Linked DNA regions of Homo sapiens: all the other regions are linked to region 1. Evidence: fine-mapped expression QTL. A gene starts in region 1. Each other region holds a variant in brackets. All regions are shown on one strand. Distances are between the middles of the regions.

Evidence for each region. PIP is the estimated chance that this variant, and not a neighbour inherited with it, causes the effect.
Region 2: its variant is fine-mapped to the expression of BMF in whole blood (TOPMed, PIP above 0.99). The same link has a PIP of 0.9 or more in blood mononuclear cells and monocytes.
Region 3: its variant is fine-mapped to the expression of BMF in whole blood (TOPMed, PIP 0.98).

The regions. Positions count from the first base shown.
Region 1 is chr15:40,103,898-40,114,273 of GRCh38, forward strand. It overlaps BMF (Bcl2 modifying factor), which reads right to left and starts at 4,982. Exons shown (of 5, transcript NM_001003940.2): 1 at 4,876-4,982; 2 at 4,362-4,489; 3 at 1,898-2,194; 4 at 283-443. The coding sequence starts at 2,189. RefSeq lists enhancers at 1-470, 1,695-1,744, 1,965-2,014, 3,585-4,280 and silencers at 1,003-1,195, 3,011-3,305, 4,790-5,039.
Region 2 is chr15:40,042,900-40,053,275 of GRCh38, forward strand. It overlaps SRP14-DT (SRP14 divergent transcript), which reads left to right. Exons shown (of 3, transcript NR_040060.1): 2 at 3,062-3,170. Among named protein-coding and RNA genes, the nearest start is that of SRP14-DT, 8.8 kb to the left of the region's middle. RefSeq lists enhancers at 4,475-4,604, 4,945-5,074. The variant G/T (reference allele first, on the strand shown) is at 4,583.
Region 3 is chr15:40,067,407-40,077,782 of GRCh38, forward strand. It overlaps LOC105370787 (a long non-coding RNA gene), which reads right to left. Exons shown (of 3, transcript NR_188231.1): 3 at 6,881-8,614. It overlaps SRP14-DT (SRP14 divergent transcript), which reads left to right. Exons shown (of 3, transcript NR_040060.1): 3 at 1-103. Among named protein-coding and RNA genes, the nearest start is that of SRP14-DT, 33 kb to the left of the region's middle. RefSeq lists silencers at 914-1,097, 2,216-2,275 and enhancers at 2,406-2,525, 9,656-10,156. The variant C/T (reference allele first, on the strand shown) is at 5,321.

The sequences.
Region 1 (10,376 bases):
CTGCAGAAAGCCATCCTATTCCCAGACTGTAGCCTCTCCCGAGAGGGCTCTTATGGAACATGAATTGAGACTGGGCAGTTAACCAATGTGGAGCTCAGAGATGAGGGCAAGATGCTTAGCCAGTTAGGCCCCTCCTGCCCATGGGAACCGCCATAACCAAAACTCTGGGACAATATCCTTGAGGTCTGGCAGAGACAGAGTTGCTGACAAGAGGAGAGAGGCAGGCCCTGGCCCCCAAGCCCCAGCAGACTCAACCCTCCTCCCCTAAACCCCCGTGCCTACTTGCTGCACATGAAGCCGGTGGAACTGGTCTGCAATGCACTGAAGCTTTCGGGCAATCTGTACCTCTGCTTGATGTTGCCACTGCCCTTCGGGGGGCTGCTCCCCAATGGGCAAGACTGCTGGGAAACTGGCAGGGAGAGGAAGCCGATAGCCAGCATTGCCTGCAAAGATAGAGGATCCACATCTCAGCATTCTCCACAACTGCTCCAACCTCCCTACGCCTGCCTGACCTGGCCAAGATTGGAGGCTGAGGGTAAATCCTCATATGAGAAAGGATAGGAGCCAGCCTGCCTCTATTGGAGCACTCTGCCAAGCTTGGACAGCCTGCTGCCCAAGTGCATAAAAGTTGCAGAACAGAAAGAATGGCCCCAGCCTTCTCTTCGCTTCTCCATTCACTGACAGTGCCATGACAAAGGGCAGGTGGTAACGTGTGCAGGCGAACATGCCAGCCTTCCGTCCTTATTTATCAAGCTACCCTTAACCACAGTTGGTTATTCACGTAGTAGCAGGTTGAAGCTCTTCTCTGGAAAAGCACTGGAGGTAGCTCTCCAGTTTCTGGGTTGAGCAAAGTAAGAGGCAGAGCAAGAAAAAATCAAAAAGTGTCTTCACTTTTTTAGTGCAGTAGAGTAAGGCTGGTCTCCCGAAGCTCCTGGGCAGCAGCACAAAAAGAGGGAGAGAAAACTGAGACGCACAGAGCTGCCAAGTTGCTCTCCGGAGACAGCCCCAGGCAAGACCTCTAGACCAGCGCTCCACACTTACCCAGTGCACGCGTTAGAACCACCGCTAGGGGCGCCAGTCCGCCGGGCTCCTCGCTCCTTTCCCTCTTCCCCGCCTGCCCGCCTTATCCAACTTCTCAGACTCCCGCCAGAACTGCTTTGCCAGAACTGCCCTAAGGGGCAGTTCCCTCTGGGAGTAACTGCAGTGTCTCCTCAATCAGCTCGTCAGACACAGTAAGCCACGCTCCTAGCCTTTACCCTCCCTCCATAAGCTGCAGTGCTAATAGAAGAAAACAGACTGTCTAACCCTGCCCTTTTGCCAGAGGAGGGCATATTTCTCATAAAACAAACTATTTAAGCCCACAAATGAAGGGGTCTTGTCTTAGCCTTGGAAGCATCCCCTCTCCTGGCATTGGGCCCAGGCAGGCCCAACCTCTTTCTCCAGTTCCCCTTTCACACACAGAAAGTCCCATGTGGCAACTGGGGGCCACCTTCTGCCTTTGGGAACCCTCCCTCCCAGAACCGGCTGGGTTTTTCCCTTCATTGTCAACAGCCAGTCACAGATCCCCCAGACTTCTCCAGGGCAACAGGAGCCACTTTATAGTAGGCAAGTCACTGCTAGGACACTAAAGGCCAGGCCACTCAAGGGGCACAAGATGTAAAAGGAGATACCATGGACCCAAGGATCCCTCCAGGAGGGGACAATTTGCCCTTTGGGGGGTCTGAGGCACAGGTGAGGAGCAATAACAAGCCGAGAGGCAGCAGGTGGAAGTCAAGGAATCAACAGCCCCGCTGATCACTTTGGGGGAAGGAAACAGCAAAGGGCAGGTTTGGGGAGGGAAAGTCCCCTCTTTTCCCCCAGTCTCTATGGGAGGAGTCTTGAGGCTGAGAGCACTCACCATAAAAGAGTCGCTGGGGTTCCTCAGTCACCCCACAAGGCAGCATGACACCTTGGCTGGGGGAGGCTGGGCTGAGAGTCTGGGTAGCTTTGTCTTCCTGGCTGGTGGGTCGAAGGCCAGGGCCACAGCAGTGGGTGAGAGGGAAGAGCTGAAGTCGGCTGAGGGGGCAGTCCAGTAGGCTCTGGGCAAACAGGTCAGCAGAGAGCAAGCTCCCGGGTTGGGTCACCGGCTCCCCATCCTCTGGTTGGAACACATCATCCTCCAGCTCCTCCACACACTGAGATGGCTCCATCTCTCCTGTGAGGGGGCAACGCAGGCATCTGGGCTGCTGCCCCACCAGGGCCATACCTGGAAGGACTCCCCTTCCCTTCTTCCTACCATACTCCCCCTTCTTATTTGAGCTGGCCGGACCACATACTGATGACATACAACCCTGGTAATAAAGCACTGCTAAGGGTGACATTCACTCCCCAAATGTGGACTGCCTGAATGTTCAGGGGCTCTCCACACCTCTTCCCTGGGCCCGCCTGGAACCACCCTTTTTCTTGATCACGTTTTCTGACCTAGGCCGGTCACAAAGTTTGACTCTGAGGGTTGTGAGCAATAGCAGGAGTAGAATCAGCAGCTATATGCATGCAGGGTACCTGGGAAAATATAAACAAGACTAGCCTCTGTAAGTTGCTGTCAAGGGTGCTGTGACTGGCTATACATACAGTGCTCACAACACACACACACACACACACACACACACACACACATACAGAGTCATTGTCCCAAGGAAATTCTTATCTCAGTCTGAGCTGAGCTCCAGGCTCAGCAGCAAAAACAAAAGCCAGCAATCCTAGGACAGCCAGGTTCCCTCCAAACCTCTAAGCCCCGCCCTGCTGCCCATCTACTCTAATCTCCACCCCTTGCTTGCACAACACAACAAACAGGCTCTGCAGTGTGGTAAGAATGTGTCCTGGGAGAGGGGATAAAGACCCAAGCTAGTCATTGCAGCTGCCGTCTCGGCTCTCTTTGAGCAGAGTTGAGCTGTCTGCCCACCAAAGTTTGGCCTAGAGGGTAGGTCCAGCCTCTCCCAACTAAGTCTCCTCACTAGTCTCCACGACTTCAAATCCCTGATTCCACAGCCTCCCGCTCCTGCCAGCTCTGAACCTGAGACTGGTACAACTGGTCTTACAGAAGGAAGTGAAATTCAGCCCTCTCCCTGTGACCTCACTCACTGCCTATACTGCTGAAGTTATTGATATGAGTTTCTTGGTGATAAAGAAGTTCCTCTTGCTCCACCTGATGGCTCTTGAAAGTCTGAGCTTGGAGCTACTCAGCATCTTAAGCTTCCAACCCAGCTCCCTACACATACCAGGAACTGCTTAGGGCCCCTGCAGCAGCCAGAAGCAGCAACCACCTGAACAGCTAAGGATAAAAAGAGATGAATTTCATTCTTGTCAGACTCAATTAGAGATTCCTGGGGGTTCTGTCCCCTAGTCTCTTGCCTTTGAAGAACAAGCCAAATGGTCTATGGATTGGTGAAGTAGCTAAAAGAATCTCAGTTCAATTCAGAATGCTGCCTTTGCCAAACACAAGCTGTGAGCTGCTTGCTTGGGCCCTGCCTTCGTCCCATCCCATCCCTGTCCCTGAGCTGTCTATGGTCCTGTCTGTGCCCTCTTCCCTGGAGAATGAGGAGATGCCTGCTAGGATGGCAAGCAGCCACGTGGTGTTCTTTGGACCGTGTTTCCCAAGTGTGTGTGTGTGTGTGTGTGTGTGTGTGTGTGTGTGTGTGTATGGGGAGGGGGGTGAGGTGGTGCACTCCAGCTTATTAACAACAGGAAACAAAATTTCCTGATGAAAGGACCAAGTGCTGTCCCGCCAGTCACCTGGCAGGGGCTCCCCTCCAGCTCTCCAACCTCCTCTTCTCAGGCTAGCAATCTTGACCTAAGAAGGGGCCCTCAAAGCCAATCACCAGCACGAGTCATTGTCTTGGTTTTTCCTTTGAAGCCTATCACCTTCCCCTCCCCCTCCCAGCAAAGCCCCAAAGTTCAACCTTTGCCTGGACTGGACAGTGGGGGAGGTGCAGCCAGAAGGTGTGGCTCTGCAAGCCCCAGGGACCCCTCTCACGCTCCACAAACTGTAGGTGGCTTGCCTGTAGGTGGGCGCCTCTGGAGGGGTGCTGGCCAAGGTCAAGGGTAAACTAAGAGAGGGTGAAATTTTTCTCCTGAGCTTAAGAGGTGATGTCCAGAGCGGTGGGAGGAGGAGGGCACTTCCTGAGAACAGGGCCAGGGAATGCTTTATTCCTAGCAAAGGAACTCAAGCCCCGCTGCAGCCATCCCAACCCCTAAGGGCTGGAAGAGGGATGCTGAACTTAGACTCCTCCTCCTCTTAGGAGAAGGCAGTAGTCAGACACCCAGATCCTCGACAGTGACTAGGAACACACACACACACACACACACACACACACACCCCAGACCTGGGTGACTCCAGGAGAGAGTCTCGGCCTCCGAGTCGTGATGCCAGGGCTCCGCGCCAGGGTCCAGCGTGACGAGCACTCGGGGGCTGGACGCCCAGACTCGATTGGGAAGGAGGGAAAAAGCCCAGCTGTTAAGGAGAGGAGCCTTCAGACTCCGCAGAGAGGCAGGATGCCCCACAGCTCCTGTCCTATCCCAAAGTCAGACCCAGAGGCTGGGCCGTTCTCGGGCGCCCAGGTCTGCTCAGCAGTGCACCCCAGGTTCCCCTGCCTACCTGGACCCAACTCCTTCGAGTCCCAAATGCTACCCCCAAGTTCCCTCTTGGAGCAGCGCACCCAACTGTGGGTTCTGCACCCCGTTCCCTCACCCCAGCGCCCCAGTTCTTCATGGTCACCCCAGACGTCCGCAGCCCAAACCCTTCCCGGGCCCCCGTGCGCAGCGCGACTCCGCTCCCCACTTCCCCAAGGAGCTGCGATCCAACTCCGCCCGGCCCCCGGCGGCCACCCGGGCGCTCACCGGGCTGCGGCAGGAGGCGGGAGGCGCAGGCAGGGGCGGCGGCGGCGGCGGGCACAGGCCGGGGCGGGAGGAGGCCACTCCGCACGGTGCGGTATTGTTTCCAAAATACGCCTGCTCGGGGCATCCCGCAAACAGCTGATGAGGCCCCGCCCCCCTGCGCGTCACGCCGAGGACTGACCAATGGCGAGTGAAGCGCCAAGTCCCGGGCTGGGCCGCTGCCAGGGACGGTCACGAATGTACGAACCTTCCCATGGAAACATTGCAAGGGGCCGAGCAAAATTCCGACCGTCGCCAGAAGCGCAGTCGGAGCGCCGTCGCCAGTGCGGATTCTGTCCCTAACACAGGCTCTGGAAGCGCCAGAGAGTCCCTGAATCCTCTGTATTAGGTGTGGGAGAGGGGGCGCCAAAGTAACTTTTGTCTTCTTTTTCACGGCAATGGGCAGAATAATTGCTGCGCGTCCACAAAGGGAGGGGGGAAGGAGGCGGGGAGTTTTTTTATGAGGCTGGTGCGTCCAGTGGGTGCAGGGTGCAGGGTGCGGGTCCCTATGGGATCCCAGCCTCAGGGGAAAGCTCCCTCCCGCCTGCCGAGCAGGTCGGAAGAAAACTGCAGCTCCAAAGCTGAAGGTGTGTTTGAAACAAACACATCCAGGGGAGCCCTTAGGTCCTCTTCTTGACTGGGCGTGGGCACTGGCAAAATAAGCACCTGGCTGAGAAGCGGAGCGCTCAAGAAGGCCGGGGCTGCTTGAGCGGTTGACACATATCTCGCATATGGCAGCATTTAGAGACTGTGCTGGTGCTGCCAGGAGAGCAGCATGTCCTGCAGACCGCGTAAGGGAGTCTATGGGCTACTTCACAGGCATTTACCGAGCACCTACTCTGTGCCAGATATTGGGCTGAGTGCCAGAAACCTGGCGTCTGCCCTCAAGGAGCTTACAGTCTACTAGGAGAGGTAGCCCTGAAAATAGTGAAAAGTTATTGGAATTGTATTCATTCCAAGGATAATGACTATTGAGGAATGCAGAAAAATTCAGAATACAAAGGCTGGAGAAGGCCTCAGGGAGACAGCTTTTAAATTGAATGGGAAATATTTTTCAATAAGGAAAACCAGATGCACATGTCTCACGCCTGTAATCCCAACACTTTGGGAGGCCGAGGCGGGTGGTTCACTTGAGCTCAGTGGTTGGAGACCAGCCTGGCCAACACGGGAAACCCTGTCTCTACTAAAAATACAAAAATCAGGCGGGCGTGGTGGCGCATGCCTGTAATCCCAGCTACTTGGGAGGCTGAGGTAGGAGAATTGCTTGAACCTAGGAGGTGAAGGTTGCAGTGGGCGGAGATAGCGCCACCGCACTCCAGCCTGGGCGACAATGAGACTCCGTCTCAAAAAAATAAAAATAAAATAAAATAAAAAAGAATAGCCCAGGCCTAAGGGTAGCAGACTGAAGTGCTGAGCTGGAGAGCTTACCTGTGCAGGGAGCAGAGGGAGGCTTGGTGACTGGATCATTGGGTGCACACTGAGATTTACGAACGGTAGGCATGGGCAGGTGGGTTCAGGTCAGACTACAGAGGTGTCCCTGGAATGCCAGACTGAAGAATCTGTATTTTATAAAGGGGAGGCAGCAAAGATTTTATTGGAGATGAGTGACTTGACCAAGCCTGAGTTTTAGGAAAGATAAAATGATGAGTCCAGAGAGCAGTGAGAGGGAGCCAGTCCTGCAACAACCCTGACCCACCAGGGGCAGTAGGGCTCAGCAGTGCTCTGACCACCGAGCTGCTCTCTGGGTTGTAAACTTAGATTTAAGTTCAGTGGAGCTGGGACCTTCAGCCCAATAGAGCCTGAAGTCTCCTTGTACCTTTTTCCCATCATTCTTTCCTTTGCTCCCTCAGAAGTCACCTGAAACAGAATGAACCAGCCATATTGAGGGCTGTGGTTGCTAGAATAGAAAAATACTGTCTCCAAAGGACAAAGAGGGAAAAGGGAAAGAGTGGGGAGTCAAGGTTAGCCAGTAGCACAGTCCCCCGAAATTGATAGATTTCCAGCAAAAGGCACTAAGCCAAAAGGAGGTATATTATTTTACCCAGAGGCTTGGCCAAAAGTGCATGTCTGAGCTGGTCAGAGTGACCTTGCACTCCTGCTACATGTAGGGAGATACAGAAACCAAACCTAGCCTCTGTGAAGGGCACCGGCAGCCCTCCGTGATTTCCAATGCACCGACTCCCTTCCGCTCCTTCCTTCCATCCTTCTCTTCTCATTTGCTTTCCTATCAGACCAGTGTCTCAGGCTGGCCAGTGGTGCCCCTGAGCATTCCTTCGGTTCAAGAGTGAAACTCAAGGCCACAGCAGCTCTGAATCTGCCCTCTGGGACAGCACAGGCCCTGAGGGCTGGGGCCATCGTAGCTCTCCTGACCCACCTGAGATGCTAAAGCTCTGTGTGCTTCATCACAGCCCTGCATGGTAAAATTGGGTCCACAAGGCAAAGAAGCTGAGAGAATGGGTTCTTTTTGTTTGTTTTGAGACAAGGTCTTGCTCTGTTTCCCAGGCTGCAGTGCAGTGGTGCAAACACAGCTTATTGCAGCCTCAATCTCCCAGGCTCAAGTGATCCTCCCACCTCGGCCTCCCAAGTAGCTGGGACTGCAGGTGTGCACCACCACAGCCAGCTACTTTTTAAATTTTTTATTTTTGTACAGACAGGGTCTCACTATGTTGCCCAGGCTGGTCTTGAACTCCTGGCCTCGAGCACTCCTCCCACCTCGGCCTCCTAAAGTGCTGTGATTATAGGCATGAGCCACCGCACCCAGCCAAGAATGGGATATTGATATGGGATCTATGTACTCATCAGGCTCATCAGAGTCCTGAGCTTTAGGGTTTATGAACCCCTGAAACTGGCTAAACTGTGTTTGTGGGTACACACAAACATTTTTGTGAGTGGGGTGGATCCATAGCTTACAACAGTTTCATAAAGTGGTCTGTGGCCCTATAAAGGTTTCAGAAAATCGTCATTGTGACAGAACTGGGCTGAGGAACAGGAGGGAGTATCTCAGGGGGTCTGGCAGTTTGCAAGATATGGGGAGGGTCACATCACTATTGATATTTATTTTAAGACCTCTCTCCCAGGTCTTCACAGCCTGCTCCCTCAGGCTGGTTCTGAAAGACACCTGTGGCTTTGCCTCCTGCGCTCTCAGTCTCTAAGGTCAAGCAGCAAGGGGCCCAGCCTTCTGAGCTAGAGGGACCAGAGAAGGACTGTCAGGGATAAAGGGGTCAGGGAGGTCAGGAGCCTCACCCCCACCTCTCATCACTGTCAAAGCAGACTCCTCCCTCTATGCCCTTTTCCCCCTTTCAGCACTGCATGGACTCAGCAGTATCAGGACCTGCTGTGCTGCAGATCTGGGCTCTGAGCCCCCTGACCAATAGCAGCACCCTGGGAACAGATGAACCCTGAGCTTTTGACTGGGCTCGGAGCAAATACACAGTGCAGTCACAGCAACCTCTATTTTGGAGAATTTCCTTTCTCTCATTCTCTTCCTGCACCTTGTCTCAATTTGTTTTCTCCTCTGCTAACTGATGCTGGCTCTGGGAGAAGGGTCCCCAGAGAAAGGCATCAGCACGGAGGCTGATAGGGAGGAGGGCCTTCCCTGACAATCTTGGAGGGATACAGAGTTAAGGGGAGGCTGCTCTCAACCAGAGAGAAAACCCAGCTCCTGTAGAAAGCGGGCAGGAGCCCTCTCCATTGTCTCACCTGGCTATAGGATTTCTCTCTGAGACAAGAAATGGCTCTAAAACTCCAGTAACTGGATCACTGGAAAGGGCGGTTTTTAAAAAACCAGCTGACAGCTGAATAATAGGAATTACCAGGCAGGCTGCCCTGGGGTTACTGAGGTTTGTAACTCAACCCCCAGGGAGGGGTTAGATGGGAAACTGATTTATGGGTAAGGTTGGGGTCTTGCTGGGGGAGCACATGGTGCCTGACCCCCTTAACTACTTCCAGAAGAGCTCATATATGTAAGAAAGACCAGGGATCTGCAAGACGTGGGTGTCCTTCCCTTGCCGGACTTGCCCTATCAAAGGGACTTTATCTGTTATCCGTCTGTCTGCAAAGGATAGTTCCTCTCTTCTGAGTTGTAGAGAGTGTGTGTTTGTGCGCACGAATGTGTGTGCATGTGTGTATGCGTGTGTGTGCGCGTGTGTGTGCGTGGGTAGGTGTGCGTGCATGTGTGTGCACGTGTGTGTGCGCTGGTAGGTGTTTGTGGGCGTGTGTGCACGCGTGTGCGTGGGTGTGTGTGTATGCGTGTGTGCGGGTGCACACACACGTATGGCGGGGGTGCGCGCACGTGTGTGTGTGTGTGTGCGCCAGAACAGACAGATTGGCTTCTACTAACTGGGCAAGTTAAGAAATTTGATTGCCTAGTCAATGAGCTCACTTCTTGCCAATTGCTGATTCAGAGGGATTCAAATAGAAAAAGCAGGTACTCTACTCAAGAGAAAGCATCTGGGAATTCAGAGACCTGGATGTAAAGGGAAATACAGAAACTAAGGACTAAAGCTGGCATGCTACCCTCTGGGAAAGCTTGGAAGATAAGATGTGAAGTCCAAGATCCCATGAAGTATGACAACAGCATATGTTCAGTTTCATTTGGGGGGACTACTCGGTAAATATTTGTTGAATGAGTAAATGAATGTATATTCACACGTTTAAAAAGTACAAGTAGTTCTGTATTAGGAAGTGGGAAGAAAGCTACAGTGGGGGATTCCCGATAAATGTCCTGTCTACATTGGCTTTGCCATTTAGGATGCCTGGTCTTATCTTAGTTTCTTTTTTTTTTCTTTTTAAAAAATTATTTAATAGAGATGGGGGTCCGCCTGTGTTGCCCAGGCTAATTTCAAACTCCTGACCTCAAGCGATCCTCCCACCTCAGCCTCTTGAGTAGCTGGGATTACAGGTGCAAGCCACTGCACCCAGCTTATCTGACTGAGTTTCTTCTCACCAGCGAGATGATCCTCCAAGAAGACAAGGGTGATGCCATCTACTCCTTGATACCCTCCGACTGCTCTGCTCCAGGCTTGGCACATGAGTCACTCACTAAGTCTTTGGAGACAAATTTACTGGAAAAACTATGAGCCAGGCCCTCAGGGCAGTATCCTCAGCTCCCCTCTCCTCAACCCAGTGTGCAGCCCGTGGAAAAGAAGTTAGCTTTATCCTGCCAAGGAATGAAGAAATCCAACAGAAATACACTTTCTTTAACTCTACTTCTCCCAGGATGTCAGCCTTTTTCCTGGTCAAATGTACATCACTACAACAGTACACACTTCTTTTTGGGATTGGCAGGGAAATCTCAGAAATTTCTAGCTGAGGCCAGATTTATTGCTATCAAGGAAACCTGCCACCCAGAAGAGCTGGGGACCAGTCCCTTCCCGGCTTCAAGTGTCCCAGGTTTTGAACTTGGTGTTCAAGATGATCTGGGCTGAGAAGTGAGTTAGATCAGCTGTTTTTCAGCCAACTCCTTA
Region 2 (10,376 bases), 61 kb before region 1:
GATTAGGGTAACATATCATTCATCAAATTGTAATTTAAATGCATAATAGAGATTAATGGCTTTTGGCCTTGGAGCAGAGCAGTATGTATGTGAGGCATGGCGCTGGGTCACTGTCTCTAAGTCATGCAGGCCACACACCTTCCTGCTCCCTCTCAGTTTTTCCTCTCCCTTTCACAGTTCTAGGAGAACCATGACATGAAAATGGTTCCCAAATCCTTTCCCACATCATGGGGGCTTCATCAAAGGCCTAGGCAGCACCAAGAGCAAAACGAAGGCCCTGGGCACAAAACACCGTACCAGCTTTGGCCACTTCCCCATGGGAAGACGGGCAGAGAAAAGTACCCCTGCTCCTCAGGGCCTAGCCGACCTAAGGGACCTGAATAAGTATGCTTGTTTGTACAACCTGAGATTGTCTCTCCCAAAATGCAGGGGTAATGTGTTTTTTCCTCAGACAGAGCACACTTTAATTTATTAGGTGTTTAATTAGAGTTGGTTTTGAATTAGGGTCAGGAATTTGGTTAGGGTTTGAATTAGGGTCAAGGATCTTGTTCAGGTTAGGGTTGATTAATTTGCAGCTGCAGTTACTCTAATGCAATTACACTTTGCAGTGCCTGGAAAGTATAATGCTTAAAAACACAGTCGCTAGTTCCTGGATGGGGTTCCTAGCTGGGGTAGTCAAGGCTGCAATAAGCCATGATTGTGCCACTGCACTCCAGTCAGGGAAACAGTGAGATGCTGTCTCAAAAAAATTTTGTATTATGTTTAACCTATTATTAATAAGGAAACCAGATGTATGTTACAATCCATTCAAAGGGGAATCCAGTAAACATCAGGAATTCTGGAATGAATTTGTAAATGGAAGTAAAATTGGATTTTGCACAGGAGGGACCCAGGGTTGTCCCTTCACTGAACAGAAGCATTTGTACATCCATAGACAAGAATCCTCTGCATTGCCATTGAGTCTCTACAACCTACAGAGTTGTAAAATAGCGCAAAGGAAATAAAAGGCTAGAAATCAGCTAATCCAGAAGGCTGTGTTCTAATCAATGTATAATTTTTCATTGGAAACATCCACTATTTTTTATTTTGTTTTGTTTTTTGTTATTGTTGTTTTTGAGTTTATCTTTTTCTTTAATGTATTTGTTTCCACTAATCTTTTTTGCATATTCCAAAATTGCTTAAGTCTCTCTGTGCCTCAGTGTCCTCATCTGTAAAATGGGGAAGTCATAAAAGTGCCTACCTCATGTCAAGGGGAGGAGTAAATGAGCTAAGGGATGCATTATTACACTGCAGTCCCTTAGTTGGGAGTGGGCTGTTCTACGTCCTCCTCGTCAAGGTGGATTCATTCTACAGGAGCAGATTGCAACAAGACACTGTGCACCTTACGGAGGACTGGCCTCTGGGCTAGTTTAACTTTTCAGTTTCAGTCTGAGGGGAACTATACCTTGGGCTCTGAGCTGCCTCACCGTAGCTCCAGTGTGCTGATTTAAGGGTCAGTTCTGGATGAAGGAAGGAGGGTATCATCTAAACACATCGAGGAATGGCACTGGGCAGGTCTGGCTTTGGGATGACAAATTTTAGAACCTAAGGCTGGGAGACCTCCCACGTCAGCGGGAGGTGGTTAGCTCTGGTGGAGCCATCCTAGAGAAGGCCAGAGGAGTGGCCGGAGGGAGATGAGAGTGTGTCCTAGAAGCCTGGGTGCCCGGAGAGAGTAAACACCCTGAAGCCACACGTCAACACACTCCCTGGACTGAATCCACTCCAACACTGGCAGTTCCCAATTCCTTTATTCTTTTCTGCAGTCAGTTGGTCAACAAGTGTTCATTGTATCTGCTCAGCCAACTCAGGGCTCCAGGAACTCTCTCCATCCCCACCCCAGGATGAAGTCCTGGATTTAAATCCCAAGCCCCAGTGTCCTAGAGAGACAGCACAGGTGCCCTGGACTGTGAGTCAGAGACCCCAGGCTCACCCTGCTCCCCAACTTGCTGTGAGGCCCTGCACGAGGTACTTGCTTGCGCCCTATCCTCCACAGGGAACCTGCCTCAGAGGGTTGTTGTCGGCTTTCAAGGACATAATCCACGTAAAGGGCTCATAGTAAACACCCAGTTGATGTATTTTTTAAAGTATTTTCACTGTTATGTTCAGGACTTAGGCTAGATTGCTAATGTCACTTCTACTTCCAAAATTCTTAGAACTGCTGCTTTTCTCCCCCCAGCCCCTTCTGGGGGCCCTAGGGAAGTTTCCGGAGCCCACAAGTGTCAGTGATTAACACTGGCCTTCCCCTCGCTCGCAGCAACGCCACCACGCCCTCCCTCCACGCGCCATCGCAGAGATGAGGAGTGGCCTCGACCTGCCTGTGACTCGTCTTGGGCCAGTAGGGGACGCCCTGGCCTCACCAGACGAGCGCAGCCATGGGCGACCGCCTCAGCCACTCCCAGATCTTGCCCTGTCGTTTACCTTAGATCAACCCTAAGAATATCCAAGATCGTGGTCATTATTTTTCAAAATTACTTCTGTGGAGGCTAGAACTTTCCGTGTTACAGAAAGATTATCATTCATCCATTCACTGAACAAGGCTAAACAAGCAGTGTTTGGCACTGTTCTAGGTGCAAGAAGCTGACTGACTTCTCCACTAGAGAAGAGACTATTTTTTTCTCAGATAATAGCTTGCTTATATTTATTGAGAAGTTACTAAGTGCCAGGTTCATTTCTAGGTGCTTACATGTATCCACTTTTGAGCCCCCAATAGTCCTGTGAGGTGAGCGTTGTTCTAGCTGAGGAGCCTGCCACCTCTGTGCGAAGAAGCACTTGCAAATGAGTGTAGCCTGCGGGCAGCTCAGGAGTGCTGAGCTTTCAGCTGTCTTTCAGCTGTCCAAAGAGGTGACAAGAAGGGAGGGAAGGCAGAAAAGAGACCAGCTCTAGGCAGAGTGGAACAAACTGGGACTCTCTCTCCACTCCTCATCTTTCCCTCCCTCTGGGTGTGGGTTCCTATCCCAAGCCCCTGTCCCCCTCCCACTCCCATGCAGAATCCTGTCTCCTTAATCCTGTCTTTGGATTCCAGGTCCAACTTGGCATTTCTTGGCTGTATCTCTGAAGGAAAGTCATCTTAATCTCTATGAGCCTCCATTTCCTCAGCTGTAAAATGGGAAGATCTTCCTCACACTGCTGTGGTGAGTTCAGTGTGACAATGTGAATATAAAAGCTTATACGTGAGAAAGCATGGCAGAAAAGCTAGGTTTCATTGTTCTTTTCCTCTCCTTCTCAAGCAGTACCCTGAGTAGAAATATTCGGTCGTGCAAAACACCCCTCCCTCCCTCCCCATCAAAATCCCAGTCTCTCACTAAGCTCAGCTAGCTGTGTGGAGGCAACCCATCTGGTAGCTAAATCACACGAACATGTTCAGGACAAATGGTTAGTATGTCACACGCCCTCCATTTGTGGAGGAAACTTAGGTGATGTTAAACAAAGAACAGACTCTAATGGTGGGATTTCTGGTATAGGGGCTTTGGGGAGATACAAAGGAATTGCCAGTACCCTCTAGGCTACACTCCATGGGCAGCCCCTGGCCCCACATGCCTGGAAGGCCATCCTTGTACAGAATCAGGTGGTGGCACTCAAGAAATGTGTGTGAACTTTAAGAGGTTCTCCCCTTCTCATCTAGGATTTCCTTCCTTGCTGAACCTCAAGAAGGGGGCCAGCATACCCCATATTGTAAGAGGGGAAACTGAGGCCAGGAAAGGCAAGCATAGTTATTGCAAGCGTAGTTATTCCCAGCCAGGCTGGAAGTCTGGGGCATGAGCACCTATTCCTGCCCTCCTCCTCCCCACACTTTCATGGGTTTAGTGGGTGGGGGAGGGGCTCCCTTATTCAGGATGATTAGGGGTCCCCAATTTAAAGTTTCCTGTCTGAAAGTCAAGGACAGGAAATTATATAGCCAGAGTTCTGCACAAATTACCCAACAGGTGTCTCGACTCCCCAAAGCGACAGATGCTGTTCATCTCTTGGCCTCTGTGTCATCATTCATCCTTGATTGTTCGGGGAAGCCCACTCCACCTCTGTGACAGACCCACAGATGCAGATTTACACAGGGAATCCTAGACAGACACAATGAAGAAACTCCCATCTGATCAGAGCCAAGTCCCAGTAATAACATCAATGAATCATTGACTTCAGTGAGTCACAATATTGAGCTGGAAGAGGCCTCCAAGACCTTTTTAGTCCAACCCTTTACCTGCTAGTTATTCACAAGTGAATAGAAACTGAGTGAGGTCCAAAGAGGGAAAATGACTTGACCAAGATCACAAAGCTTGGTAATGCCAAAGGTGAGACTGGAAGCCCCGAGCCCTGAGCCCCAGGCCCATGCACTTTCCACACACCCCTCTGCCTGCCACAAACTAGCTGGCACAGAGAGCAGGAGGGAGGGCATAGGCCCCTCATGACTTAGCCAAGGGCAGCTCAGTGTCTCCATGCAGGTGGACTCCGTGTGTCAGCTTCAGCCCTCCCTTGGGAAGGGAAGGGCCTGGGGCCGTCCTCACACCCCAGGCGCCAGGCCACGGAGCTATAGGAGGCAGCTTCCTGCTTG[G/T]CCCTTATCCAAGGCCATTTCACAATGGGGGGAAAAGCGCTGAGCTGAGAGTCCCGGGTTGCTGCTCACTCCACCCCCACTCCAGCCCCTTTCAGACCCCCCAGGGACAACGAGCCAGGCCCGGCCTGAGGCTTGGGGTGAAGAGAGCTGCAAGAATGGAGACAGGCTGAACAGCCCCTTTTGGGAGTGTTCTATGAGCTGTGTCCCTGGAACTGGACGAGGGCACCACCTTGCATATTACCAGCACTATCCCCCTTCCCTTGCCGTCCACCTGCAAGCATTCAGGCTGGGGAAGTCCCTTCTGGGACAGGAGTGGTCGCTTCCAGTCAGCCCCATAGCACTCTCATGATTAGTCAGAGGGGAACCTGGAGGCAAGAAGGCCCACAAGCTGGGAGACGGCAAGGCCTGGGTCACTTCCTGCAGTGAGGCAACGTGACTACCAGGCAGAGGAGCCCAAATGTCTCCTCCCAAGATGCTACAGGGTCTGGGGTGAACTGTGGCTCAGCTGACTGAAATTCAGGCAGGAACCAAGACAGAGACACTGAGACGGGACATTCAGCCAGGATTTATTATGCCCTTACACACAGGGTCGGCTCTGAGCTCAGCTCTGTAAGGGATCTCGTTTGAAGTAGGAGGCAGTGGTTAAGGACCCAAATCATCCTGTCTTCAAGTCTTGAAGAGGAGACAAAACAAACCTAGGTGAAATGTCAAACCACAAGACAAGGCAGTGTGAAATGAGGGCCCACACTCTCATGCTGGACAGTCCAGTATGGCCAGTGAAGCGGGGGTGGGGAGGGAGTCACTGCAGACAAAGCTTCGGGGAAGAGATGGAACCGAGAATGATGGGGAGAACTTGACTCTGCAGACAGGATGGGAAAGATCTTTCAGACAGGGAAAGGAAGACAAGGCAGAAATCAACCTGCATACGTGAGGACAGGACCCTGTTTGCACCAGGGGTGGTCAGCCACGAGGCTGGAAATGTGCCTGGCCACAGGGCACTTCCTCACTCTGAGCTCTTGCTACTTGAACACAGCCTTCCTTGGTATCCGTGGGAAGTTGCTGGCCTACTGAGGCAGGATACCACACGGAGAACTAGGCAGGGGCGTGGAGGTGTCAAGGAACTCAGCCCCTTGGTGGAGGAGCCCTCTGACAACAGGAAGCAGCTGCAACGGGCTCCAGGGCTGTACTGGTATCTGCAACTCTCCCCCTACCCTGGCTGCACCCTGCAGAACAAACTGTTCTTCAAGAAGTTCTGGGGACAGAGGGCCCACACCTGCTCCCAGGTCGGGGTGGATAAACCCCCATCAGCCAGGCTGGGAGCCCAGCAGAGACATCACACAGCTCAGCAGCCCTCCTCACCCCCTGGCCCCCTGCCTCCTCCTACCCCAGACCAGGTTGCAGTTGACTAGGGCAATATAACACAAAACAAGAGCTTTATATTATTATTATTATTATTATTATTTTATAGAGACTGGGGTCTCACCATGTTGCCCAGGCTGGTCTCAAACTCCTGGTCTCAAGTGACCCTCCTGTCTCAGCCTCCCAAAGTGCTGAGATTACAGACATGAGCCATGTTACCCAGCCAAGAGCTTTGGAGAGGGAAATGAGAACTGAATCTTCATAAATACCTCATCCTGGAACTTCCAACAATGTCTCCAAAAATAGTACCTAAACTCCAGGCCTCAAACTCTAAATTGAGTGGGGATGTGAAGTGGTTGTGGCCTTACAGAAACAGCACTGGAGTGGCAGCCGAAGTGCTGAGTTCTAATCTGAATTCTGCCACTCATTGGCGTGGGACCTTGGACAAGTCACTTTTTGCCGGACTTGAGTTTCTTCCTCTGTAACTTGGGGAGTTGGGATTGAGCTGTAAAGTCCCTTCCAGTTTTAAATGTGAGACTCCAATGCTGTCAGGTAACTTTGGGATTGCTGTAATGACTGTTTGGGGGCTAGTATAGCTGGGAAAGAAATTAGGATGAGAATCCAATTGAGGGCAAGATAAAATGGAATTGTATTCTATTCAGAACTTGAAATAGGATGGGATTTTGTTTTCCCCAGATCCTCACCATAAAGAGATTTGGGAGAAAATCTTGGGAGATTTGGACTCAGAATATCTTAAGAGGTAGTATTCTAGAAGATTGCCCAACACTTGGTGGGGAAGAGCAAGAATTCTTCCAGATTGCTTGACAAGCAGAACATGGGGAGTGGGTCACAGTAATACCAGGAAAGACACATCCCATCCTCCCAACCCTCTTTTCCACTGAAGCTGCTCCTTACAATTCCTGTAACTGGGGACCAGGCCTTTCATTCCAGTTACAGCTAAAACTTAACATGGCCATTTAAATTTCCCTGAGGGTATAAATGGCTAATATTCTCTCCTTCTAAGACCCAGCATATGCTGAGAGAGGCCTTCAGAGGAGGTGGGGGCTGGAAGAAGGAGTGAAGGTGGAGGCCCAAAGATCACGCAGGAGCCATGCTTTTTCTGAAGCCAGATCTAGGCCTAGCAACTCAGAGCAGTTCCCCGTGGGCAGTGATGTGGAAGAAGGCCCTGGGCTTCCTAAGTGCCTCTAGGTCACTTTGTGAAACCTCTCACATGGGCCTGCCTGGGAGGAGGAGCCCAGTGTAGCCCCCACCTGTCTGCTGCCTGCTCATCTTCCAGGGTGTTGAGGGGATGGGTAGCATGGCTGTCTGCCCCCACCAATTACCCACATGGCTTGGGTCAACCAGACTCTGTCAGAGCTGTTGAAGGAGACATAAACCTAGGCTTTTGGAGGCAGCTTCAGGGAAAGGTGGAGTGTGTGAGGTGGAAGGTGGGTGAGAAAGTGTGCAAGGGGGAACACACTGTTCTCTACTGGCCCTTTGCCAAACAGCAAGGGAGAGAGGAGTAACAAGGCCAGACTATGGCCATGTTTAGTGGTTTTCAACTGCGGCCCAAAATGAGGCAGACATAGGCTAGGCATGGTCTAGCCCTTGTGTGTGTGTGTGTGTGTGTGTGTGTGTGTGTGTGTGTGTAGGGGGAGTGTGAGGAAGTTGTGAGGGTGTGTGGTGTGTGGGGGAGTGGTGTGTGTGGGGGGTGTGGTGTGTGTGAGGAGTGTGTGGTGTGTGGGGGATTGTGGTGTGCGGGGGCGGTGGTGTGTGTGGTGTGGGGTGTGGTGTGTGCGTCTGTGTGGTTGTGTGTGGTGTGTGGGGAGGTGTCATGTGGCATGTGTGGGGGGTTGTGTGTGTGTGAGGAGTGTGTAGTGTGGGGGGGGTTTGTGTGTGCATGGTGTGTGTGCGCGTGTGAGGGGGTGTGGTATGCATGGGCAGTGGTGTATGTGGTGTGTGGGGGGTGTGGTGTGTGGGGGTGTGTGGTGCGGTGTGGGTGTGTGTGTGTAAGGAGGTAGTGTGTGTGGATGTGTGTAGGGGGTGTGGGGTGATGGTGCGTGTGTGGTATGGGGGGTGTGGTGTGTGTGTCTGGAGTGGGGAGTGTGTGGTGTGTGGGGAGGGTGGGGATGTGTGTGTGGAGTGTGGGGGTGTGTGGTGTGTGTGTGGAGTGTGGTGTGTGGGGAGGGGGCGGGTGTTGGCCTGGGTGAGCCCTGGCAATCGCAGCAGAGAAGATGCCAAAATTTTGTATTTACTGTCAGGGCAATGATGCTGGAACTGCAGATCCAGCGCCCCGAAACCCGGCCCATCCCAAGACACTGCTTCTCACAGCCAACAGAGGAAGGAGGGAGGGGGAGAGGCCTGAAGCCGAGGCTTCTTCTTGAGGAATGCTCGCCAGGCCAGCAGCCTTCCTCACTTCAATGCAGCCTTCCCCTTCTATCCACCGATGAGCATTTAGCGGGCAACTCCTTTGTCCAGGGCAAGCCTTCCCCAGGTCTCTCTCTTCAAAAGCAGATGCTACCTAGTGGGAGGTGCGGAGTTATACATGCAAGAAAGGGCTACAGGACAGCATCACTAGTACCAAGCTGTGAAGGAGGTGGACTTTGAAGGGAAGAAAGAATTTAGAAAAACAGACTAGTGGACTAGTTACTGCGGGGAGCAGAGTGCCATTTCAGGCAGGAGAAGGAGTGTGATGTGAATCTTAGGGAAGAGTCCTCTTTGTATGTTCTGACAACTATTCTCTGACACCAACGGGGCATCCTGCAATTGGATTCAGTGTCAATTCTGACACTGACTACCTGCAGTTAGTGCCTGTGATATTGTGAAACAGGTATTAATTAGGTCTTCATTCCTGACATACAACTCCTAAAATCCTTGGAATCTCCTAAGTTTTAAGTGTCTTTTTGCACGCTAAGCACCTAGGTAGCTTCAAGATGGGAGCTGGCCGCCAGAAAGATCAAGACAGGGTTAGAGGATTGGGACTTTCAGCCCCACCCTTCAACCTCCAGGGAGGGAAAAGGGGCTGAAGTTTAAGTTGATCACCAGTGGCCAATGGTTTAGTCAATCAGGCTTATGTAATGAAGCGTCCATAAAAACCCAAAAGGGCAGGGTTCAGAGGATTTCTTGATAGCTGAACACGTGGGGATTCCTGGAGGGTGGAGCACCCATGGAGGTTAAAGAAGCTCCACCCCTCCTCCATAGCTCACCCTATGCATCTTTTCATGTATATCTTGTGGACTATCCTTATAATAAGCTAACACATGTAAGTAAGTTGTCCCTGAGTTCTGTGAGCTGCTTTAGTGAACCCCAATTAGCTGGTCAGACAGAGCAGCGGCGAAACAACCCAGGGCTTGCACTTGGCATCAGAAGTGAGGAGAGGGGACTGAGTTCTCAACCTGTGTGATCTGACACTGTCGGCAGGTAGAGTCAGAGTTGAACTGGAGGATGCCCCACTAGTGTCTGCTGCGGAAATGATAGCTTGCTTGGTGGCGGGGAGAGACCCCTGCCCCCCCATGTGGTGTCAGGAACGTGTTGAGAGAGCATAGTAGGAAAAACCGAGTTTGGTTTTTTTACAGTGTCAGACTCCACAAGTTAAATGTCAAAGTCCCCAAGACTACCCTTACTTCAGAACTCAGGCGCACGCAGGGTCCACAGGCTACTGGCACTTCTGTCTGACTTGACTACACATTTGAGTTCTCACCACCCAAACTTAGGGTTCAGTAGTTGGCTAGAATGGCTCACAGAACTCACTGAGCATGCTATACCTACAATTAGTTTTATTATCATATAGACTCAGAACAGCCAAAGGGAAGAGCTATGTAGGGCAAGGTGTTGGGTGGGGGCGGTGTGTGTGCAGAGCTTCCATGCCCTCTCCTTGTGGAATGTGGTATGTCCCTCTCCCAGCACATTGGTGTGTTCACCAACCAGGAAGCTCCTCGCAGTTTCAGTGTCGAGTTTTATATGGGGCTTTACTCCACAGGCACCATTGATGAAATCATTAACCACATGACGAACTCAATCTCTAGTCCTTCCCTCTCGCCCCAGAGGTTGGCGGTGCAGTAGGGATGGGAGTAGGGATGAAATTTCCACACTCTGATCACATGCTTGGTCTTTCTGGCATGGCCAGTCTCTCCCTTAAAATTAAGGGCCCACCTTGAGTTGCCTTCTTATCATAACCTGAGGTATGATGGAAATGCTCATTACAAATGACAAAAGGCGTTCCTGTCACTCAGGAGATCCCAAAGGTTTTTAAAGCTCTGAGCCAGGAAAGGGGGACAAAGACCGAATGGGCTTTTTAAAAAGTCATAGCAGAGATTGTAATGGGCAGTTCCTAGGGAAAGGAAGTGGGAGCTGAGGATGGAAAGGCAGGGTGGGGCAGATGTATAAGGTCAGAAGTTGATGGGTACGGGGAGGAGAAATCAGCCCTGCCCTCCTA
Region 3 (10,376 bases), 36 kb before region 1:
AAGTCATCCACATATACATACACTAATTGGGAAGAAAACCTGTCCCAACCCCAACTATTTTATTAAGAGATGCATTTCCAATAAAAATTTACCTTTTATGTTTAATAGTTGTTTATCAAATTTCGTAATTATTTACATTGCTCTGATCAATTGGATATAAACTATTCTAACACTAAACTCATAACCAAAAAATTAATGCTCAGCTTTGGGAACAGAGGAATTTTTTTTTTTTTTTTTTTTTTTGAGAAGGAGTCTTGCTCTGTTACCCAGGCTGGAGTGCAGAGGCGCAATTTCAGCTCTCTGCAACCTCCACCTCCCGGGTTCAAGCGATTCTCCTGCCTCAGCCTCCCAAGTAGCTGGGACTACAGGTGTGTGCCATCACGCCTAGCTAATTTTTGTATTTTTAGTAGAGACAGGGTTTCACCATGTTGGCCAGGATGGTCTTGACCTCTTGACCTCGTGATCTGCCCCTCGGCTTCCCAAAGTGTTGGGATTACAGGTGTGAGCCACCAGTCCCGGCCAGAAGTTTTAATCTTTAAATTTTATTTAATACAATAATCAATCAAAGATTTTTCTTTCTTTCTTTTTTTTTTTTTTTTTTTTGAGACAACTTCTCCCTTTGTTAGTCAGGCTAGAGTGCAGTGGTGCAATCATGGCTCACTGCAGCCTTGACCTCCTGGGCTCAAGCCATCCTCCTGCCTCAGCCTCCCCAAAGTACTGGGATTACAGTCATGAACCACCATGCCTAGCCAATAAAAGATTTTCAAGCATAAAAAATAAATACAGGCTGGGTGCTGTGGCTCACACCTATAATCTCAACACTTTGGGAGGCCGAGGTGGGCGGATCATTTGAGCCTAGGAATTGGAGACCAGCCTGGGCAATATGGTGAAACTGTGTCTCTACAAAAAATACAAAAATTAGCAGGGCATGGTGGTGCAGGCCTGTAGTTCCAGCTACTCAGAAGGCCGAGGTGGGGGAATCACCTGAGCCCAGGAGATTGAGGCTGCAGTGAATCAGGATCACACCACTGCACTCCAGCCTGGGCAACAGAGCAAAACCCTGCCTCAAAAAAAAAACAAACAAACAAACAAAAAAAAACCCTTACATTAGCATAAAATCTGTAACAGGAGTGAAATGGAAATACAAGTTCTTGGAGAGAACGAAATAATGTAAACTTCTAAGCTGTTTAATTAGCGTTTGTTCCCCTATTTTTTTTAATGGATAATGTTGGACACAGAATTGCTCTGGCATTTAGATTCCATTGGACATTTAAAAGAAAGATACAATTTGTATTTGAAAATATCAATATTCATTTTTCTTTGAATTTTTTGACTATAAAATATAATAAAGGCATATAGAAAGTGAAAAAATATTCATAAAATGCTAAAAAGGATATCCTTTGGAACTATTTAAATTTCTGATGGAAAATTTCAAATGCCAACTTAAATACAAGAGGGTAGGTCATGTAAAAAAATTATTTAAGGGGCTTTGAAGGCGGCTGTCTGGGGAGTTAAGGTCTTGTGTCTCCAGTGCCCTCTCTCACCCCTAAGGTACTGGGTGGGCCTCTGGAGGTACATCTGCCTATACAAGGAATCTTTGATGTAGCAAAAAAAAAACACAAAACACAAAAAACCCTCACAGCATGCCCTGCCCTTGGGCTCTGGAAACCACCGTCCTGCCTGCCCCACTCCTGCTCTCAGCCCCCTCCTCAGGCCTAAGCCTCCCCAACCCTCCCCACCCCCCACCCCACTGCCCCACCCGCAGTCCACCCCGCTGTCGCCTCCCAGCCCTGGCCCGGCCAGCCCTGGAGTAAATAAACCACCGGGCAAGGACCCAGACAATGGGCCTTGGCAAGGAGTTAATGGGCTGGGCCTCTCGCGTTAGCCGAGTGTGACCGGAGCTGGCAGGGGGCCTGGCCTGGCGCCAGCATCGATTACGACCAGACGGAGCCAGGGCAGACTTGGCACGAATGGGCCCCACAGCTGGCAGATTCAGTCACCCTGGCCACAAGGGCACGAGGCCTGCCCTGGGCGCCGGCTGCCACCGCGGCTGTGCTCCCTGCCACCGCCTTCACTGCCAGTGTGGCAGGGCCGCTTGTCAGGCACTCAGTCCCTAGGCCCTTTTGGTTCTCCCCAGGGGATTGTCCCTGGTCAGGCCTCTTCCTGTCCCAGGCTGCCTCTGAGGCTGCTCTGTGGCCCCACAGACTGGGTGCAGAGCGGGGGTGGGGTAGGGGGAGGCTGAGGGTTGGGCTGGGGGATGCAGCTGTGACGCCCCTGCCCCCGGCACTCCCACCACTCCAGGACAGAGGGAGGCTGCTGAGCCAGGCTGGTGTTGGTCAGCAGGAAGAACAGGTGAAGCAAGCCTCATTTCTGGTGTCCAGATGGAGGACAGGGTCTTTCTTCCCCTGTTTCTCAGAAACCTTTGTGGGCCTGGGCTCTGCTCTGGCTCGGCAGCTCCACCCTGCAGGGGGATTGGCCGGGTGGCAGGGACCACCTGAGGGCTCACTGCGTCCCTGCTAAGAAGTTGTTCGAGTCAGGGTTTGCAAGCGGGGCTTGCCTGGGGGAAAGGGCATTTCTTGCTTTTTGGGTTTACTGCTCCTCCCAGGCTCTCTGGGTCCCTCTCCCCTGGGCGATGGGCTGTGGCATAACGTCCTCAGGGCAAGGTAACGGCTCCATCTGGAGCTGATGGCTCCTCCAACGCTAAGGAGCTCCATGGACCCAGTCTTGCTGAGCAAAGGTTTCTTTGGCTTGACTGCTGGAAGACAAATCACACCACTGGGCAGTCTCCAAATTTTAGGGGATGGTCAGTATCTCTCTGAGAGAGATACTGAGAGGTCCAAAAAACCCCACAGAGGAGAGAAAACACCAGGCCACATACCCAGAGTGACAGCCCCTGCTCTCTGAGGTCACAGGTGGAGAGCAGGGGAGGTCAGGCCCTGAGGGCTGTGGCTGCTGGAGCCAGCTCCACCAGGCCTGATAATCCCTGCAGATGAAGCCGGCGCCCATCCCAGTAGGCAGTGGTAATCCCCACCCAACCCCACTTCCCCGGGGAGGAAGCTGACACAGGGGTGAGGGGGCACTGGAAACACGGGAGAGCAGAGGAATGGCAGCTGGGGCCCTTACCCCGGCACCAGCTTCTGCACCTGCCCTGAGTTTCCCTTGTCCCCCTCCAGAAGCTCTCAGATCTTTACTTTTTTGTGAGCTCTGTTCTCAGAGAAAGTTCTAATACATGTATAATACCAACTGGCTAACTGAGTGGGGTGGGTTGGGGCTTGGGGGGCTGGGGAAATGTGTGGCCCACCAAAGGACACTAACCCAACAACCCTGCGGAGTTGTGGTCTCCAAACTGAAAGAGGACACAGTGTCAGGTGACAAACAAAACTGGCCTGGAGCCAGGCATGGTGGCTCACTCCTGTAATCCCAACATTTTGGGAGGCCGAGGCTGGAGGATCACTTGAGCTCAGGAGTTCAAGACCAGCCTGGACAATATAAGGAGACCCCTGTATTTACAAAAATTTAAAAAATTAGCTGGGCTAATGGTGGTGCATGCCTGTAGACCCAGCTACTCGAGAGGCTGAGGTGGGATGGTCGCTTGAGCCTGGGAGGCAAAGGTTGCAATGAGCCGAGATTGCGCCGCTGCACTCCAGCCTGGGCAACAGAGCGAGACCCTGTCTCAAAAATTTAAAAAGTTAAAAAAATTAAAATTAAAAACTGGCCTAGACTAGGGAAGTGAAATGTCCAAACATTTTGAACAGATAAGAGGCATGGTAGGAGGGATGAATTTTTATAAAAGAAATATTGACATTTGGTGGCGAAATATAAATATATACAAATCTTTTCCTCTACAATACTTTTTTATTGTCCTTGAAGGACCTACAAAAATCACTTAGGTCGTTTAGGCACATAAAATGTGCCATGCATAACTTGGCTCATAAAATTGTCACCTTTGTTATATGGTTCCAGAGATGTGAAGGTCTGTTTAAAAGTTAAAAACATGCTGTTAATGGAGACTCTATTTTTCCCCAATATTTTTTAAAACCAAAAGACTCCTCAAGGAGTCTGATTTTTTTTTCTCCCCTGGCCTTCATCTGGACTCTTCCTTTTGGTGGCCTTTAATGAAGTAGGTTGGAGACCCTTCATACTGGGTAACCTCACACCTTGACCTGGGTAGTCAGTAGCACAGGGCCCAATGCTTAGAAGGGCCTTGCATTTGGTTTAAAACTCTGTTGCCGCAATATATATATGTCTTTTTTGAGACAGGGTCTTGCTCTGTCACCCAGGCTGGAGTGCTGTGGCATGTTCTTGGCTCACTGCAGCCTCCACCTCCTGGGTTCAGGCTATCCTCCCACCTCAGCCTCCCTAGCAGCTGGAACTCACAGGCATGCACCACCACGCCCACTAATTTTTTATTTTATTTTTTTGAGACAGGGTCTTGTTCTGTCACCCAGGCTGGAGTGCAGTGATGCAATTTTGGCTCACTGCAACCTCTGCTTCCTGGGATCAAGTGATCCTCCCACCTCGGCCTCCTGAGTAGCTGGGACTACAAGCATGTGCCACTGTGCCTGACCTAATTTTTTATTTTTTGTAGAGACAGGCTCTCACTATGTTGCCCAGGCTGGTCTTGAACTCCTGGGCTTAAATGATCCTCCTACCTCAGCCTCCCAAAATGCTGGGATTACAGGCACGTGCCACCACACCCAGCAAACGCTTCATAATTTAATAAGGGGCCCGTATTTTCACTTTGCACTGAGCCCCACAAGATAAGTAGCCAGGTCTAGTTATACCCCCGCCTGAAGCCAACACTGACCTTCCCCAGCCCTCGGAGCTGTCCCCAGGCCTCACTAGTCTCATCTCTCCAGTAGGAGGCCTTTGCCCTTGTGTAAGTCTTGCTTCTTCTCGTCAGGAGTGCCTGACTGCGTGCCTCGCTTCGAGCCTCCCGTCCCCTCTAGCCAGCTCAACAGCATCTCCTTATATTCCCCTTCGGCCCTGGGGACCACTGGGAACAAAACAAAACGCAACCCGTTCCCTTGTGGCTGTCGGGCGGGCGGGCGTTGAGCCCTGTTCCTCACTCCAGCTGGTGTACCCCTCCGGGAGCCACGCCTCGCGCGGAGCGGGAGCCTTCAAAGAGGCCGCGCCTTCCTGGCTGCTCCCTTCGCATCCTGATCCAGTCCAATGATGTTTTTGCAATTTTCCTGTGAGCTTGGTGGGAAAAGCTCAAAGAGACTCTGTCTTCCTTTCTGGCTTCCTTTCCAGACGGCGCAGCTTTCTCTCAGCTGCTCCCCTGCCCCACCTCTCTCGAGGAAATCGGTCTCTTTCCTCT[C/T]CCCCTCACCCAAAAGGTCCATTCCTGAGGCTTATCCTGAAATCAAGCCGTAGCGGAGCGGTGGGGGATCCGAGGCACAAGGTGGGTCGGAAGTCGGCTAACCACCTGGCTTGGGGCCTCCCTACCAATGCCACCTGTGGAGGCAGACTGTTCGGAGGATCCCGGAGGGAGACAGGGATAAAGAGAGCTCCTGGGGCTGGAAGAACATTAGCACCTCTCATTAGGGCTCCCACAATACCCCATCTGAAAGAAGGTGATGGGTTGTTCATAACCCGCTTCTCCTGGAAACACTTTCTAGTGGCCGGGGACAAACGGGAATGTGTCGCCTCTGTGGCCTTTCTGTTGAAGCAGCTTAGCTGTCAACGCTATTCCCTGGGAAGAGCCTGGCATCCCAGGGGTCTCAGAACGGGCATCAGAGTTCAGAATGTATGACAATCACTCCCAGCCAATACCATCACTCTCCCAAATCAGGAGTTTCCAGTTCTCCCAAGGCATCAACTGTACCCTGACACCCTAGTGCAGTGCTAGGGAAGTGCGCATGTCCCATTAACATCACTCCTCCATCCGCTCCTCCGCCCCTCTTTCCTTCTCTATTAAAAGTGATAGGCTGGGCGCGGTGGCCCACGCCTGTAATCCCAGCACTTTGGGAGGCCGAGGCGGGCAGATCACTGTCAGGAGATCGAGACCATCTTGGCTAACACGGTGAAACCCCGTCTCTACTAAAAATACAAAAAATTAGCCGGGCGTGGTGGCGGGTGCCTGTAATCCCAGCTACACGGGAGGCTGAGGCAGGAGAATAGCGTGAACCTGGGAGGCGGAGCTTCCAGTGAGCCAAGATGGCGCCACTGCACTCCAACCTGGGGGACAGAGCGAGACTCCGTCTCAAAAAAAAAAAAAAAGATCCGCAGGACTTGAGAATAAAGAAGACTTGCCTGCTGTTTCCACCCACTAGAGAGCCCACCAGGCCCAGGGACAAGCCCAGGGCTCCAACTCTTCCCTTTTTTTTTTTTTTTTTTTTTTTTCCAGCAACGGGGCCTCATGATGTTGCCTAGGCTGGGCTCCAGCTCCTGGATTCAAGCAATCCTCCCACCTTGGCCTCTCAGTGTTTTGGGATTACAGGTGTGAGCCACCACGCCTGGTCTCAAGCCTTCGCTTTCGCAATCAGCACTAAAGGCAGCCAGAAATCAACCGTGCGCCACCCCCGACCTGAGAAACAAGTCTAAATGTGTCCGGAATTGGTGGGTTCTTAGTTTCACTGACTTCAAGAATGAAGCCGCGGACCCTCGCGGTGAGTGTTACAGCTCTTAAGGTAGCGCGTCTGAAGTCTGTCCCTTCTGATGTTCACACGTGTTCCGAGTTTTTTCCTTCTGGTGGGTTTGTGGTCTCGCTGGCTTAGGAGTGAAGCTGCAGACCTTCGCGGTGAGTGTTATACCTCTTAAGGCAGCGCGTCTGGAGTTGTTTGTTCCTCCCGGTGGGCTCGTGGTCTCAGGAGTGAAGCTGCAGATCTTCGCGGTGAGTGTTATAGCTTATAGCTCATAGACGCAGCGTGGACCCAAAGAGTGAGCAATAGCAAGATTTATTGCAAAGACCGAAAGAACACAGCTTCTATCAGCCTGGAAGGGGACCCGAGCGGGTTGCCAATGCTGGCTTGGGCAGCCTGCTTTTATTCTCTTATCTGGCCCCACCCACATCCTGCTGATTGGTAGAGCCGAGTGGCCTGTTTCGTCAGGGCGCTGATTGGTGCGTTTACAATCCCTGAGCTAGATACAAAGGTTCTCCACGTCCCCATTAGATTAGTTAGGTACAGAGTTTCCACACACAGGTTCTCCAAGGCCCCACCAGAGCAGCTAGATACAGAGTGTCGATTGGTGCACTCACAAACCTTGAGCTAAACACAGGGTGCTGATTGGTGTGTTTACAATCCCTGAGCTAGATATAAAGACTCTCCACGTCCCCACCAGACTCAGGAGCCCAGCTGGTTTCACCTAGTGGATCCCGCAATGGGGCTGCAGGTGGAGCTGCCTACCAGTCCTGCGCCGTGCGCTCGCATTCCTCAGCCCTTGGGTGGTCGATGGGACTGGGCGCCGTGGAGAAGGGGGCGGCATTCGTCGGGGAGGCTCGGGCCGCACAGGAGCCTACGGAGGGGGTGGGAGGCTCAGGCATGGCGGGCTGCAGGTCCCGAGCCCTGCCCCGCGGGAAGGCAGCTAAGGCCCAGCGAGAAATCGAGCACAGCACCGGTGGGCCGGCACTGCTGGGGGACCGAGTACACCCTCCGCAGCCGCTGGCCTGGGTGCTAAGTCCCCCATTGCCCGGGGCCAGCAGGGCTGGCTGGCTGCTCCGAGTGCGGGGCCCACCAAGCCCACGCCCACCTGGAACTCCAGCTGGCCCACAAGGCCGCACGCAGCCCCGGTTCCCACTCGTGCCTCTCCCTCCACACCTCCCTGCAAGCTGAGGGAGTGGGCTCCGGCCTTGGCCAGCCCAGAAAGGGGCTCCCACAGTGCAGTGGGGGCTGAAGGGCTCCTCAAATGCCACCAAAGTGGGAGCCCAGGCAGGGGAGGTGCCGAGAGCAAGCGAGGGCTCTGAGGACTGCCAGCAGGCTGTCACCTCTGATAAATAGGTAGGACCGTAAGCAAGCCAGAAGCCCAGGTGAACAGTGGGCCCGGAGCCAACAGGAACTCGCTCTGAAACTCCAAATCCCAAAAGAGTAGAGGGGCTGGTTTCCATAAAGGCCGCAAAGTAAACCTTGTGGAGAAGACTCCAGTGGCTCTGGAGAAAGGGGGAAGCAACGTGGGGCAGCAGAAGGGCAGAGGACAAATGAGTCAGCAAAAATGACTTCCTACCTCCCAAAGGGGAGGGGGTTGAGGACGGGAATTTCCAGTAAGAAAGACTGGCAAGATCCTGGGTAAAAGCTGAAAGGGAAAGAGGTACACGGGGCAGGAAAATAACACCATTGGAATGAAAATGGTTCCCCTGCAGTCTAGTGATAGGAGAAGGAGGGAATTGAGTGAGTTGGGGTATCTTAGCCATCTCGGCCAATCGCGTGGCACTACAGCACTGGGACTTTCTTGGCAGAATGAATACACAGGGGCTTAGAGGCATGTGCTGCTACTGAGGGGAGCACCAAGTGAGAAATGGAAAAGACCAGGAGAGTGGTGAACGGCCTCACGCTCACTTGACTTCACTCATGCAGAAGGGCTGCGGGAGCAAGATGGAAGTCCTGACTGACGATCCACACTCTGGGTCTTCAGGGAAGTGTCAGCCTCAGAGCTGCGGTCAGTGCGTGGAGCCGGCTACCTGTTGGGGAAGAAGAACTTAAGGTAGCTCCTTACCTCACACGTGCTAGTTAGGCTAAATAATTATTATTTTTGAAAGGAAGCAATTTAAAAAGAAAGAAACGAGAAGAATGTATAGGTAAAGACTTGAAAAAAAAAATATATATATATATATATAGTCAAGACAGGGTCTTGCCATGCTGCCCAGACCAGAGTGCAGTGGCTATTCACAGGCATGATCATGGTGTGCTACAGCCTTAAACTCCTGGGCTCAGGTGATCCTCCTGACTAAGCTTCTCAAGTAGCTGGGACCACAAGTGCATTCCACTGCGTCCAGCCTTCTTGAACATTTTTATATGAAAAGTTATATAAGCATAAATGCAACAGAAGTCACAAAGGAAGGCTTGATTTGGCTGCATTGAAAAAAATTTGTGACTCGAAGTGAAATTGTAAGACAAATAGCAGTTTATAAAGAATTCTCGTAGACAATAAAATACTAATTCCAAAAGTTAAAAACAGCCAAATACTAAGGAAGAGACAACTCGCAGAAGAAACAATGGCAATTAAGTATTTAAATATTTCTTACTAATTTAGAAAATAAGAAAGTGAAAGTTAAACAATGAAATGTCTCATTCTGGGTGGACATTGTAGCTCATGGCTGTAATCCCAGCGAATGGGGAGGTAGAGGTGGGAGGATCGCTTGAGCCCAGGAGTTCTAGACCAGTTTGAGCAACATAGCTGGTCTCTACAAAATAAAAAATAAAAAATAAAAAATTAGCGCAGGGCACAGTGGCTCACGCCTGTAATCCCAGCACTTTGGGAGGCCGAGGCGAGCGGATCACGAGGTCAGGAGATAGAGACCATCCTGGCTAACACACGGTGAAAGCCCGTCTCTACTAAAAATACAAAAAAAAAAAAAAAAAAAAAAAAAATTAGCCAGACATAGTGGCTGGCGCCTGTAGTCCCAGCTACTGTGCTCGGGAGGCTGAGGCAGGAGAATGGCGTGAACCCGGGAGGCGGAGCTTGCAGTGAGCCGAGATCGCGCCGCTGCACTCCAGCCTGGGAGAAAGAGCAAGACTCCATCTCAAAAAAAAAATAAAATAAAATTAGCAAGCGTGTTGGTGCACGCCTGTAGTCCCAGATACTTGGCGGTGGAGGGGTGGCGGAAGGGGGCGGGCTGTTTGAGCCCAGGAGCTCAGGAGGTCAAGGCTGCAGTGAGCCATGATCGTGCCACTATGCTCCAGCCTGGGCGACAGAGTGATACCTTGTGTCAAAAAAAAAGAAAGAGAAAGAGGGAGGGAGGGAGGGAGGGAGGGATGGAGGGAAGGAAGGAAGGAAGGAAGGAAGGAAGGAAGGAAGGAAGGAAGGAAAGAAGGAAGGAAGGAGAAAGAAGGAAAAAGAAAGTCCCTTTTCACTCGTAAAATTAGCAAAATAAAAATGTTTCAGGCTGGCCATGTTGGCTCACAGCTGTATTCCCAGCACTAGATGGAAACGTGGTGATTTAGGATCCAGGTTCTGTTTAGCTCAATAAGCTAGACGTCCTCCCCTGAGGAGGGAAGACGGCTTGAACCCAAGAGGTCGAAGCTGCCGTGAGCTATGATTGTGCCATTGCAGCCTGGGCAACAGAGTGAGACCTGTCTCAAAAAAAAAACAAAAAAAGTTTCAAATGATAATACAGTTGACCCTTGAACAAGGGTTTGAACTGCGTGAGTCCACTTATGTGCATGCTTTTTTTTGTTGTTTTTTTTTTTTTTTTTTTTTTTTTGGTTTTTTTGTTTTTTGAG